Homo sapiens: one gene and its partners. The protein of the gene in region 3 interacts with the protein of the main gene of each other region in a pairwise test. Each region holds a gene or a part of one and is shown on either strand. Other genes may lie near its edges.

Region 1 (4,299 bases), on a different chromosome or scaffold from region 3:
CCACATTCAGATGTGGGTGGCTCAAACAGTCCAGCTCCCTACCCACCGCAAAATGTGCCCATTCTTCCTTGTCCCAGCTGCCGGTCACTGATACGCCATGTGAACATTTCCAATGACAGGGAAGGCCCCCGTCTCTAATTAAGATGGTTGCTGTCCATATACAAGTCTAACTGTGGCATATATGTACTTTCCTCACCAGACTGCAGGGTATGTCACTGCTCCTGGTACAGCTACAAAAATGTCGGAGGCCGTCATTTTTACCTTGAGGGGGTGGGAATTGGGAAAGAGAAAGAATCTTGTAGGGCTCAGGCAGTGTCAAAAAGCCTAACTCTGGACTGATGGAGATTTGCAGTCATGGGGATTTTAGCTTGTGGGGGAGGGGCAGATGGGAAGGTGACAAAATGAGACTGTCCTGGGGGAAGAGGAACTGGCCATTAGATTTTTATGTTTGTTAAAAGGGGACATGAGATGCTTTAAAAAACAAAAAAAGAAAAAAGAAATTGAGCAATACTCTTGTTTGTGCCGTTTCAGTGAACCAGCTGTTTTTTTTGCTGGGTCATCATCAGTAGACAGTTCCTGTGTAATCATGAGGGGAGGTGCAGGCTGCGCTCTAGTAAATCTGCAGTTTACCATTTCTCCACTAAAATGCCCAGCAATGCTAAGTCACTGTTTACGTAACAAAATTGCACTGGGTACCTGCCATGTGTCAAGGACAGTGGTATGAAAAGATGCAATACCATGTTCAGGGAGCCCACAGTGTAGGTGTGGGTAGGAAATTATTGTGTAGGGTGATAAGCACCGTGATAAGGGTCTGCATTGTGCTGCAGAGGCCTGGAGTAAAGGCACCCACCCAGACATAGACCTAACATACCCAAGCAGGTGATGGCCAACCTGAGATCTGGCATGTGGTATAGGATAGCCCCACTTGTCCACACATATGGACTCCCAGCCCAACTCCCCCGTGCCTAGGGAGAGAGGGGCTCAATGAAGACAGTGGATGGAATGAGTGATGCCAGTTTCTCTTTTGTTTCTGAAAGATTTCTCCGTGGACGATGGCAGCCACGATTCAGGCCATGGAGAGGAAGATTGAATCGCAGGCTGCTCGCCTGCTTTCCCTAGAAGGTCGAACCGGGATGGCCGAGAAGAAGCTGGCTGATTGCGAGAAGACAGCCGTGGAGTTCGGGAACCAGCTGGAGGGCAAGTGGGCCGTGCTGGGGACCCTGCTGCAGGAGTACGGGCTGCTGCAGAGGCGGCTGGAGAACGTGGAGAACCTGCTGCGCAACAGGAACTTCTGGATCCTGCGGCTGCCCCCGGGCAGCAAGGGGGAGTCCCCTAAGGTAGCCCTGGGACGCCTTGGGGTGTGGGAGCCCAAGCGGCCAAACCCGTGAGCGTGTGGGTGAGCGAGTGTGACACTTGTGGTTCCAGGTGCCCGTGACCTTTGATGATGTGGCCGTGTATTTCTCCGAGCAGGAGTGGGGCAAGCTGGAGGACTGGCAGAAGGAGCTCTACAAGCACGTGATGAGGGGCAACTACGAGACGCTGGTCTCCCTGGGTAAGGCCTGACACTCATTTCTCTGTTAAATGGGATTTTGCAAGTCCTCAGAATTCTCCCTCCACATAGTTGTTTTCATGTCAGTGTTATATAAATCACCAGAAACATTGTTGACCTTGCAAGTTGTTACCTTTTGTGAAGGATGAGCCCTGGGTGATGGAGTTAAAAGCTCCCTTCTCCCTGTGTTGAGTTTCCCAGAATGCCAGTCTGGGAACGGCGGTGGCTTCTCTCCTACGCAGGCCCGGGATGTGGACCTTTCTGTTCTTGCTGACTTGGAGCGGGGAAGGCCCCATCTGCTCTCAGATCCAGTATGTAATTGACTCACATTTGAGAAAGACTCTTTCCTTCAGCCTTCTCCTACAAACATGCGTGGCCCTTACGGCAACATGCCTCGAGGTCAGTGGAGAACATGGGCAGACGGTGCTGCTTGCAGCAGACATTTTCTTCATGCCTCAAAACTTTGCTTCCCTCAGCCCCTGGGGCTACTGCTCTTCTCCTTGTTTAATCCTGCCCAGGAAGGGCCTGGACTCTGTTTCTTCCTGGGCTGGTTTTCTCTTCCTAATGGTTTCTGTGTGACCCCGGAGCCGAGGGCAGTGAGACCTGTTAGAGAGGGCAGGAGCAGGTGCAGACGTGAGGTTGTTTCGTCAGCACAAGTGCACTGCTGTTTAACGTGCACGCTCTGTGGCAGTTTCTTCACCCCGGCACTGTGGACATTTGGGACCAGGTGATTCTGTGTGTCGGCGGCATCCTCTGCATTGTAGGATGTTGAGCAGCAGCCCTGGCCTCTCAGGGCATCTCCAGATGCCAGTCACCTCTCCCCCAGCCCTGGGCATGACAACCAGAATTGTCTCCAGACTTTGCCAGATGCCCCCAGGGAGCAAAATTGCCTGTGGTTGAGAGCTACTGCTTTGTGACAATCAAGAGATTTCATTTCTAGACCATTGTTGGTTTTCCGGGATGACTGTCCCCAGCTTTGACTGGAACGTGGCAAAAACTAACCTTCTGTCTTTCCTCAGACTACGCCATCTCCAAGCCCGAGGTCCTCTCCCAGATTGAACAAGGGAAGGAGCCCTGCAACTGGCGCCGCCCTGGCCCCAAGATTCCAGATGTTCCTGTGGACCCCAGTCCAGGTAAGGGCTGGGAGAAGGCCAGGGAGGCATCAGGTATTGTGCAGGAAACAGAGACGGAAAGGCCAGAAAGGGTGTGATCTTTCCAGAGAGAGTCGAGGAGAAACATGAAACTTACAGGTTTTATGTCTTGAGTTTTTTATAGTTGAGTTTTAATCTCTAACTTAGTCAGCTAATGCTCCAGAAATGAACACTTTCTGTCAGGGAAACAGGTGGCAAACCTAATCTTTTAGGAAGAGACAAAGGCAGGGCACAGGTTGAGGGGAGGGAGAGGAGAACGCTGAGAGGGAAGGCAGGAGCATAGTTGACCCTTAACGCAGGGGCCAGGGGCACCAGCCCCCAGTCCCACGCAGCCAAAAATCTATGTATAACTTTTGACTCTCTAAAAAGTTAACTGCTAGTAGTCTCCTATTAACCAGAAGCCTTATTGATACTATGAACAGTCAATAACACATATTTTGTATGTTCTGTGTGTTACATAGTGATACTTACAATAAGCTAGGGAAAAGAAAATGTTACTAGGAAAATCATAAGGAAGAGAAAATATATTTATTACTCATTAAGTGGAAGTGGAGCATCATAAAGGTCATCCTCCTCATTGTCTTCTTCAGATTGAGTAGGCTGAGGAGAAAGAGGAGTGGTTGGTCTAGCTGTCTCAGGGGTGACAGAAGCAGAAGAAAATCCATTTATAAGTGGGCCTGCATAGTTCAAACCCATGTTGTTCAAGGTCAGCTGTATATTGACAACAAAATTAATCCAAAGCTTTGCAAAGAGTCAGCCTTGCCTCCAAGAACCAACCTTAATTTAAACCAGTAGCAGTTGTAGAGCTACTTTGGTCTACATTGGTCAGCCTTATGGTTTGGTATTATTAGAAGCACACATTTATTTAAGGTGAATCTTGTTACCAGATATCAGCGTCTCAGATTTCCCTGGAGCCAGTCAGCACCTTTGAAAGTTAAGGGAAGGACAGGTGGACACAGGAGAAAAACCAAATTCCTAAAGTGAAGACCTGCTGGGTCATTTGACTAGGGAGACCACATCTCTGCAAGGCTCGACCCCTGATTCCTCCAGAAGACCCGCCCTTGACCGTCCCACCTGCCTTGGTTTTCCCTTTCGTCTGACACTGAGAAAGGTGGTGGTCCGCAGAGGCCCTCCTGTGCGCCACTTGTGTGAAATTAAATGCATCCCCCATGTTCGTCATCTCATCTCAGTCAGATTTGCACTTTCCTAAGGGCAGAAGCATGTTCCGGGCTGGCCGCTTTGCCAGTCGTCATCGGGACATTGACAGTTTAGCTCTACAGATGCATTTTTAAGAATCTTCTAGGCGTCAAGGACAGTGCTGAACACTAGAGGACAGAAAGATGGCTGAGAACAGATACTATTGGGCTGGAAAAGAGGGTTACAACCCGTGCGCGTCCCCAGCTTCCTAGCCTGGGTGGGAGGTTCTGGGTGGGTGGGTTTCGTTGTATTTACACCATGTGTGGAGGCTTCCCTCACTTCCACAGCATCATTCAATGAGAGTAAAGAGGGGCTGGAAATACGCTGGTTGCTGGTAAGACCCTGTAACACTCTCTAGCTGCACCGTATGATGTTCAGCAGCATCCGTGGCCTCTACCCACC
Region 2 (4,299 bases), on a different chromosome or scaffold from region 3:
GGCTCACTGAAACTTCCTCCTCCTGGGTTTAAGCGATTCTCCTGCCTCAGCCTCCTGAGTAACTGGGATTACAGGTGCATACCATCATGCCCGGATAATTTTTGTGTTTTTAGTAGAGAAAAGGTATGTTGGCCAGGCTGTTCTCGAACTCCTGACCTTAAGCGGTCCACCTGCCTCAGCCTTCCAAAGCTCTGGGATTACAGGTGTGAGCCACCATGCCAGGCCTCACTATCCCTTTTTAAATGCCAATTTTGCTGTGGGAAAAAGATATCAGCTAAGAGATATAACAAAGAAGTCTAGAAGTGAGACACTTAGTCAGGCTTTCCTTTTCTAACTTCTGCTTCCTATATTAGGTAATGTGTAAACTGGGATGGCCCTGACCAGCCCCAAGGTGCCCACCAGTCCATACTTGCGTCAAACACATGCAGCTTCGTGTCCTGCACGGGCTGGGCACCTCTCTCTCCGCCCCCAAAGACATATAGCTGGTTTCCAATGGCTGCCGATGATGTGTGGAATGTTCTTGGGGATGGTGGGGGGCTGGTCACTTCTGGCGTGGTCCACGTCCTGGTTTCTGGGCCAGAGAGAATGCAGGCACTTAAAATATCCAGGTAGAGGGGCTTCTGACCTTGACTCTGGGGCTGAGTGAAGTCAGTTTCCAAACTCCAATCCCCAGGGGGGCCAGCATAGTTTTGGGCAGGGATCTCATACTCACAAACATCAAGGAAGAATGAAGATGATACTTAGGATTTGCCAAGACAGTCCAAAATCCCCAAGATTTAAAAGCTGTAAGCACAAGAATGGAGTCAGGCTGGGTGCAGTGTGGCTCATGCCTGTAATCCCAGCACTTTGGGAGGCCAAGGCGGGCGGATCACTTGAGGTCAGGAGTTCGAAACCAGCCTGGCCAACATGGGGTAAAACCCCATCTCTACTAAAAATCTGAAAAATTAGCCGGGTATGGTGGTGGGGACCTGTAATCCCAGCTCCTCAGGAGGTTGAGGCAGGAGAATCGCTTGAACCCAGGAGGTGAAGGTTGCAGTGAGCTGAGATTGCACCACTGCACTCCAGCCTGGGTGACAGAGCAAGGCTCCATATTAAAAAAAAAGAAGAAAAAAAAGAGGTCAATTTGTTTTGGAGGCCTTCAAATATCCTCTCTGAACCCTCTTCTACTTTGCTCACTATCGCTCCCCCTAACATCTGCTAACATTCATTCCCACTAGATGCCAGAGTCCAGGTGTGCCAGATTTCCCAGAAAATGTGGCCAATAAAAGAAAGTAGGCAGGCCATGTGCAGCAGCTAACACCTGTAACCTCAGCAGTTTGGGAAATCGAGGTAGGAGGATTGCTTGAGCCCAGGAGTTTGTGACCAGACTGGGAAACAAAGCAATATCCTGTCTCTACAAAAAATCAGCCAGGGGTGCAGTGGCTCACGCTTGTAATCCCAGCACTTTGGGAGACCAAGGTGGGTGGATCACTTGAGGGTAGGAGTTCTAGACCAGCCTGGCCAACATGGTGAAATCCCATCTCTACTAAAAATAAATAAATAAATAAATAAAGCCAGGTGTCGTGGTGGGGACCTATAATCCCAGCTACTCAGGAGGCTGAGACAGGAGAATCACTTGAACCAGGAGGCGGAGGATGCAGTGAGCTGAGATCATGCCACTGCACTCCAGCCTGGTTGACAAAGCGAGACTTCATCTTAAAAAATAATAATAATAAAATAAAATAAATTAAAAATTAAAAAAAATTAGGCTGAGCACAGTGGCTGTAAGGCCTGTAACCCTAGCACTTTGGGAAGCCAAGGCAGGAGGATTGCTTGAGCCCAGGAGTTTGAGGCTGCAATGAACTATGATCGTGCCATTGCACTCTAGCCTGGGTAAAAGAGTAAGACCATATCTTGAAAAAAAAAAAAAAGAAAGAAAGAAATGAAAAAAAAAAAAAGACAATACTATTACATTTCAGTAGCAGTAATAACAGTCCCTACTAAACAGTAAATGCTAAACAAATATTAATTTCCGCATTTTACAGGTAAGAGAATTGAAGTAGGGATGGATTAAGTAACTTTTTAAAAGAGACATGGCTAGCCAGGCTCGGTGGCTCATGCCTGTAATCCCAACACTTTAGCAGGCTGGGGCAGGTGGATTGCTTGAGCCCAGGAGTTTGAGACCAGCCTGGGCAACATGGCAAAACCCTGTCTCTACAAAAAAATACAAAAAAAAATTAGTCGGGTGTGGTGGCGTATGCCTATAGTCCCAGCTACCTGAGAAGCTTAGGTGGGAGGATATACTGAGCCTGCAGCGGTTGAGGTTGCAGTGAGTCAAGATCACACCACTGCAACTCCAGCCTGGGTTACAGAATAAGGCAAAGAAAGAGAGAGAGAAAGAGAGAGAGAGAGAGACAGATAAAGTGACATGCCTAAGAAATGGCTGAGTTGGAATTTAAACTCTTTCAGTAACACCAAGATCTTTCTAATTCCCACTCCTCTGACTGGAGAATAAAATTTCACCACCTAGATAGATGTATAGAAGCTTATTTCTTTTAAGGATGAACCTGGGTTTTATAGAAGCAGATGCATTAATTGAGCACCCTCAATGGGCAGCATCATTGCCCTGGGCACTGCCATCCCTGGTGTCTTCACTCAAGCTTGGGAAGTGAGCGGAAGTATCTCTACTTTTAGATGAGGAAACTGAAGCTCTGCACATTTAAATCCTTTCCTGCAGGTTATAGCATATGTGCGTAGCAGAGCAGGAGTTTGAACTCAGTTCTTTTTTTTTTTTTTTTTTTTTTTTTTTGAGACGGAGTCTCGCTGTGGCTCCCAGCCCAGAGTGCAGTGGCGCGATCTCGGCTCACTTTGCAAGCTCCGCCTCCCGGGTTCACGCCATTCTCCTGCTTCAGCCTCCCGAGCAGCTGGGACTACAGGCATCCGCCACCATGCCCGGCTAATTTTTTGTATTTTTTTTTTTTTTAGTAGAGACGGAGTTTCACCGTGTTAGCCAGGATGGTCTCGAGCTCCTGACCTCCTGATCTGCCCGCCTCGGCCTCCCAAAGTGCTGAGATTACAGGCGTGAGCTACCGCGCCGGGCCTGAACTCAGTTCTATCAGAGTCCCACACTTGCTCTACCATAACACACCAAGAAATTCTGTCTTTTGTAAAAGGTCTACATCCAATATATAAAATGCTACAGGAAACATCTGTAATATGTGTGGGACTCAAATGGGGACCTGGAGACTGAAAAAGTCTCAGCCTATATCCAAAGCAAAATGTAGCTGTCTCTATAGTTACAGATGTTGGAGAGCTTTTGGATCTTAGAGGGAGCTAGAAAGGTATACATGTCACCTCCAGGCCCAGAAGACCCTAGGGCTGTATTCCTGCCAACTCAAACACCAGCACAAAGAATCACAAAGGAGTCCTGAGCATTTGAGGGACTTGCCTTGGTAACAAATGCAACTAAGTACATATTTCATATTTCTTGGGCATGATGTCAAATTATATTTTCTAGGAGAGAAAAGGGATATGATAGAAAATCACCCTCTTTAATATAAAAATTAGCTGGGCATGGTGGCATGTGCCTGTAATCCCAGCTACTCGAGAGGCTGAGGCTGGAGAATCATTTGAACCCAAGAGGTGGAGGATGCAGTGAGCTGAGATTGCGCCACTGCACTCCAGCCTTGGCAACACAGTGAGACACTGTCTCAAAAATAAAAATAAATAAATAAATAAATAAAATAAAATCACCCTCTTTGACAGCTTTCCAAATTCTCACTTTATTTTATTTCAATGGATACCATTGTTGAAAATCAAAAGGCCAGGGTTCCAGAACTGATTTCCCTTTGCCAAACCTTAACTACATCAACTACCACAACAATTACTGAGCATTAATTATGTGCCAGATACTGAGTTTATTTAAATCCTTGACAAATTAACAAGGTAGAAACTATTACTATCCAATGTGACAGAAAACAGAGGCAGAGAGAGGTTAAATCACTAGTCCAAGGTCATAGTTAGTGCATAGCAAAACAGAGACCCTCATCTGTGCCCTTAAGCACCATATTATACTGCTAGTCCTCCAAGCAAATTGGCTTCACAATTAGCCAAATGGTCTGCCAAGTGTCTACTCTATCACTTTCTTCTTTTTTTTTTTTTTTTGAGACGGTGTCTCACTCTGTCACCCAGGCTGGAGTGCAGTGGCGCGATCTCGGCTCACTGCAACCTCCACCTCCCAGGTTCAAGCGATTCTCCTGCCTCAGCCTCCCAAGTAGCTGGGACCACAGGCACCTGCCACCAAGCCCAGCTAATTTTTTC
Region 3 (4,924 bases):
GCTTGCTGAGCATCTTTGCCTGGATGACACAGAGGCCCCTCAAGCCTCTCATTGTCCCAAACTGAATCCATCTTTTCCCTCAAACCCATTCTTCTTGCATTCCCTTTCTATGTAAAGGCTCCACAATCACCTAGTTCAGTAGAAATGTAGGCTTTTGTCTTCCTAACTACTTCCCGTCTTTCTCCCTCTTGTCCAGTCTGTTATTAAACTCTATCCATTGGCGTTTAATAATCCACTAACTATCCATTGAATCTGTCGGCTTCTCTCTTCTGGCCATTGCTACTGCCTAGGCCACCATCATCTCTCACTTGGATTGTAGCTGCAGTCTTGTAGCTACACGTTTACCTTCTAGTCTTGTGATGTCCTTTTGTCACATTACAACCAGTGTTCATTCTTTTTTTTTTGAGACAGGGTCTCACTCTGTCACCCAGGCTAGAGTGCAGTGGCATGATCTTGGCTCACTGCAACCTCCGCTACAGCCTGCACTTAGGCTTGTTGTAACATATCCCATTCCATACTTCAGGTGCCTATTAACAGACAAAAATCCCACACTACTCTGTTGGCTCTTGAGGGCAGGGACCCTGTATGCTATATCCCTAATACCTGTGTTAGCAGATAAATATATGGTTTCTGTGTCTTCTTACACTTGAGGGCCACACTTGAAGGCCACACTTGAAACTTATTCCATGAGGGTATGGGAGTTTGAACTTAAAAGGAAAAAGATGGAATTTATCATTTGCCATTGTGATTGCTTACTGAAATTAGACATCAGTCTTATCCCCAGTCCCAACTTAGCTACCCATGCAGAAGATACAGACCGTCCAGAAGATACATAACAAGCTGTCACCTTATTCCATAAAACTCTTTCCTGTTGTACCCAACACATAATCATGACTGCTCAGCCTAGCAAAGCAGTTTGATACGTTATAGGACAGGCTGTCAGAATAAAATTATGCACATTTTGCTATCAAACAATTCTGCTGTAAATGGTTCCTTTAAAAGAAACTTCTTGCTGCAGAAGAATTTCCCCTCCAGGAATAAAGGAAGAGTAAAATACTAATCTGCATTTCTTCAGAGGTGTGACACGGTCTACTTTATTACCATGTTATATAATAAACATATATAATGTAGAAATAAGGATTTTTATGCAGGTATGCATAGAATTATATAGAACTTTAAAAAGTTATTTTTTAAAATTTTTTCACATGGTGAATATTTTATTACAGTATATAACCATGTAGTATATAACATGTACATATTTTTATGTACAGTATATAACGTACATATTTTTATTACCTAGTATGTGTATGTAAAATCTATAGTGACTTTGTTTTGTGTATTGAAAACATCTTTGTAAGCTGCACATTTTTGTGGGAGATAAAGACTTCTTTTTTTAAATCTTAATTCAGGTGAAGGTACAAGTAAGAAGCTGGCGAAACATAGAGCTGCAGAGGCTGCCATAAACATTTTGAAAGCCAATGCAAGTATTTGGTGAGCTAAATTTCTTTGTATTCAGCAGCTCAAAAATATCATGGCTGAGGTAAGATTAAAAATTTGAACATGCTTACAAAAGCAACAAAGTGAACAGTTGTTAGCATCCTACCTCTCAAATTCTATTTCCTTATGAAAACTTATCATCCATTAAAGAAAACTTTATCCAATCAAATCCAGCAATTAGCTATTAAATGAAGGTGCTCATGAACTAGGCTTTACTGTTTTTTTTTTTTTAATGGGATACAACAGTAGAAAATCAGTGCTTCTTGCAAATATTAATATTAACATTTTGTATTTAGACTTTGATTATTTCTACATTGAAGAAAACAAAGTGTGAGATGGAGAAAGATCCACTAAAAGTACTCTTTTGGGAATTCTAATTTTGAAGAAGCAGGCAGAGGTTTTCTTTTATTATATAATGTATACCAAAAGAAGAGAATGTTAAGTGGGATATTAATTCTTGACATATCTTTCTAAAGTAAGATTTTTTTTTTTTTTTTTTTTTTTTTGAGACGGAGTCTCGCTCTGTCGCCCAGTCTGGAGTGCAGTGGCGGGATCTCGGCTCACTGCAAGCTCCGCCTCCCGGGTTCACGCCATTCTCCTGCCTCAGCCTCCCAAGTAGCTGGGACTACAGGCGCCCGCCACTACGCCCAGCTAATTTTTTGTATTTTTAGTAGAGACGGGGTTTCACCGTTTTAGCCGGGATGGTCTCGATCTCCTGACCTCGTGATCCGCCAGCCTCGGCCTCCCAAAGTGCTGGGATAGATTTTTTACTACTTTAGGTGTTTCTAGATAGAATATTGGTCCTGGAGCATCTCACATATTAAAGTAGTGTCCACTGGGTGCACTCTGGAGCTTGGCATGCTTTCAAGTTCTTCTTGTGCATACACTTACATATGCCTGAAGTACGATCTGTGTAATCAGCTTATAGTTGACAGTAGAGACCCAGGGAATTTGGGATGGGTTTTTTGTTCCCTAGTCATAGAAAGGCTTTTGGATTAGGGGTGTAGTTAGGTTCTCATGTAGTATTCCTCTCTTTTTGTAAATCATTCTAAACCGTTTGGGTAGTTTAGAACTAACCAGTGACATGGCAACCCTCTAGATAAGCAGCTGCCCAAGACAAGCCTTGCATTTCACAAGATGATGCTTGATTCTCTAGGGTCATGCATTATAATTGATCTATGCCAGGCTGGGCGGGGTGGCTCACGCCTGTAATCCCAGCACTTTGGGAGGCTGAGGTGGGTGGATCACTTGAGGCCAGGAGTTCAAGACCAGCCTGGCCAACATGGCAAAACCCTGTCTCTACTAAAAATACAAAAATTAGCCAGGCATGGTGGCAGGCGCCTGTAATCCCAGCTACTTGGGTGGCTGAGGCACAAAAATCGCTTGAACCCGGGAGGCGGAGATTGCAGTAAGCTAAGATTGTGCCCCTGCACTCCAGCCTGTGAAACCCTGCCTCAAAGAAAAACAAGGCCAGGCATGGTGGCTCACACCTGTAATCCCAGCACTTTGGGAGGCCAAGGTGGGCAGATCACTTGAGTCAGGAGTTCGAGACCAGCCTGGCCAACATGGTGAAACCTCGTCTCTACTAAAAATACAAAAAATTAGCCGAGTGTGGTGGCACGCTCCTGTAATCCCAGCTGCTTGGGAGGCTGAGACACGAGAATTCCTTGGACCCAGTAGGCAGTGGTTGCAGTGAGCTGGGATCGCGCCATTGCACTCCAGCCTGGGCGACAGAGCAAGACTCTGTCTCCAAACAAACAAAAAAAAGACATGCCAAATGACATGGCAGGTATTGGGTTCTCCCCCACTGGTGATGGCCATGCTGTTTCTGTATAGCCTGAAGGTGAACCCAACCATTAAGTACATTTGTAGAAATGAGGGGTATGGAGTGTCCTTTCTGCATCTTGGCACTTTGTCAGCAAAAAAAGCTAACAAACTTTACTATATTTGTGCTTCTTGACAGATAAAATGGGAATTACTAAGCTGTAATCAGGCCTAAAGTGGCCTGACTTAATACAGAGACTTTCTCACTTCTCCATCACAATTATTTGGGTAGCTTCGGCATGCAGCATTGTAAGTGAATACTCATATCTCATCAGCCTATGTAAAGCTTGAAATTCTCACAGTTGGAAAAAAAAAACCTTGAGGAAGTGGCAATAACTAAACCTCATTTGTCATGGAAAAATGACTCCAGTTGCCTAGGTGGTACTAACCTTGAAATGCCGCTTATTCAGTTTTAAGTACTGACCTGCTAAGTAACTAGTAATTCCAGACTCCCTAGAAGAGGTTGTTCTCTTTTTCCCTAATCATAATCCCCACTTGCTAAAACCAAATTCATCTAAGCCATCTATTTTCTGCAGGATACATGTAAATCTTAGAGGATTATCCCAGCACTGAGCAGATGATAGATCAAACAGATCTCTCTTCATAGTTCTGTGGATGAAAAAACAGTATTTACACATAATCTGTATTATTCACATTGCCAGGCTAAATTTTCTGGATCATTGTTACTCTTCTGTTTTTTGTATAGTTGTAACAGAGTATTCTTTAAATACATTTTTATGGCATGCCTATTATGTACAAAACACCACAAAGCTTATGTAGGTAAGTGATACATAGGCCCTACCTCAAGGAGCTTACTGTCTGAACAGGGGAGAGGTGTGGTGAAGGATGGACAAATTATATGTATTTGTAAGAGTATATAATTTATGGTAAAACAATTTCAAGAAAGGATTAAACCATGTGTTATAATGTTTCAAAGAAGGGAGAGATTATAAACCACTGGGGTAAAAGGATAGGCTTCTTGGAGGAAGTGACATTTGAGATATATCTTGGATGACCGATCAGATTCCCATAGAAGAGGTCTGAGAAAAGGGCATTCCATGTAGAAGGAATGACAAGAGCAAAGACATAGAGAGTTAATTAGAAAATGCTTGTCATTTATTTCATAATTCGGGGGAAATTATTTTGTTTTATAACACTTTTAAAAAATATTTAGCTTTGCAGTTCCTGACCCCTTAATGCCTGACCCTTCCAAGCAACCAAAGAACCAGCTTAATCCTATTGGTTCATTACAGGTAAGTTGTACAGTTCTTTGCCTACTGATGAAATATATAATAAGTTTGTAATGTCAGAGGGGCTAACACAAGGAATTAATATTTTAAAGACAAGATAGTGATATATTTTGTTTTCCAACTTACGATCATTAGATTAACAGAGCTAACTTGAAATTATTTTCCTATTTATGTTCTGGGTTTTCTTTCATATACAGTATTTGCCTTTGGCTTATAGAATTCTCATTTAAGATCAACAGGCCCTCAGTGCACATGGGTAAAGTGTTTTATACTTTAAGAATAGTTCTTGCTACTCTTGTGACAAATCTCTTTCTACTTCTGTTGAGACAGAAGACTTTATAGAGAGCCTAAAT

What was found. Proteins that work in one complex are often made in the same cells at the same time.
Region 1: the proteins of PRKRA (region 3) and ZNF746 interact in a two-hybrid assay, tested with the Homo sapiens proteins (one large-scale study listed by BioGRID and IntAct).
Region 2: the proteins of PRKRA (region 3) and RABEPK interact in a two-hybrid assay, tested with the Homo sapiens proteins (one large-scale study listed by BioGRID and IntAct).

Annotation. Positions count from the first base shown.
Region 1 is NC_000007.14:149,491,242-149,495,540, reverse strand, and holds part of ZNF746 (zinc finger protein 746), read left to right. Parts: intron 1-1,037; coding exon 1,038-1,337; intron 1,338-1,425; coding exon 1,426-1,552; intron 1,553-2,568; coding exon 2,569-2,682; intron 2,683-4,299.
Region 2 is NC_000009.12:125,216,811-125,221,109, reverse strand, and holds part of RABEPK (rab9 effector protein with kelch motifs), read right to left. Parts: intron 572-4,299; coding exon 410-571; intron 1-409. UniProt on the Homo sapiens protein: Rab9 effector required for endosome to trans-Golgi network (TGN) transport.
Region 3 is NC_000002.12:178,444,072-178,448,995, reverse strand, and holds part of PRKRA (interferon-inducible double-stranded RNA-dependent protein kinase activator A), read left to right. Parts: intron 1-1,409; coding exon 1,410-1,491; coding exon of another isoform or gene 1,492-1,540; intron 1,541-3,460; exon of another isoform or gene 3,461-3,570; intron 3,571-4,495; coding exon 4,496-4,574; intron 4,575-4,924. UniProt on the Homo sapiens protein: Activates EIF2AK2/PKR in the absence of double-stranded RNA (dsRNA), leading to phosphorylation of EIF2S1/EFI2-alpha and inhibition of translation and induction of apoptosis.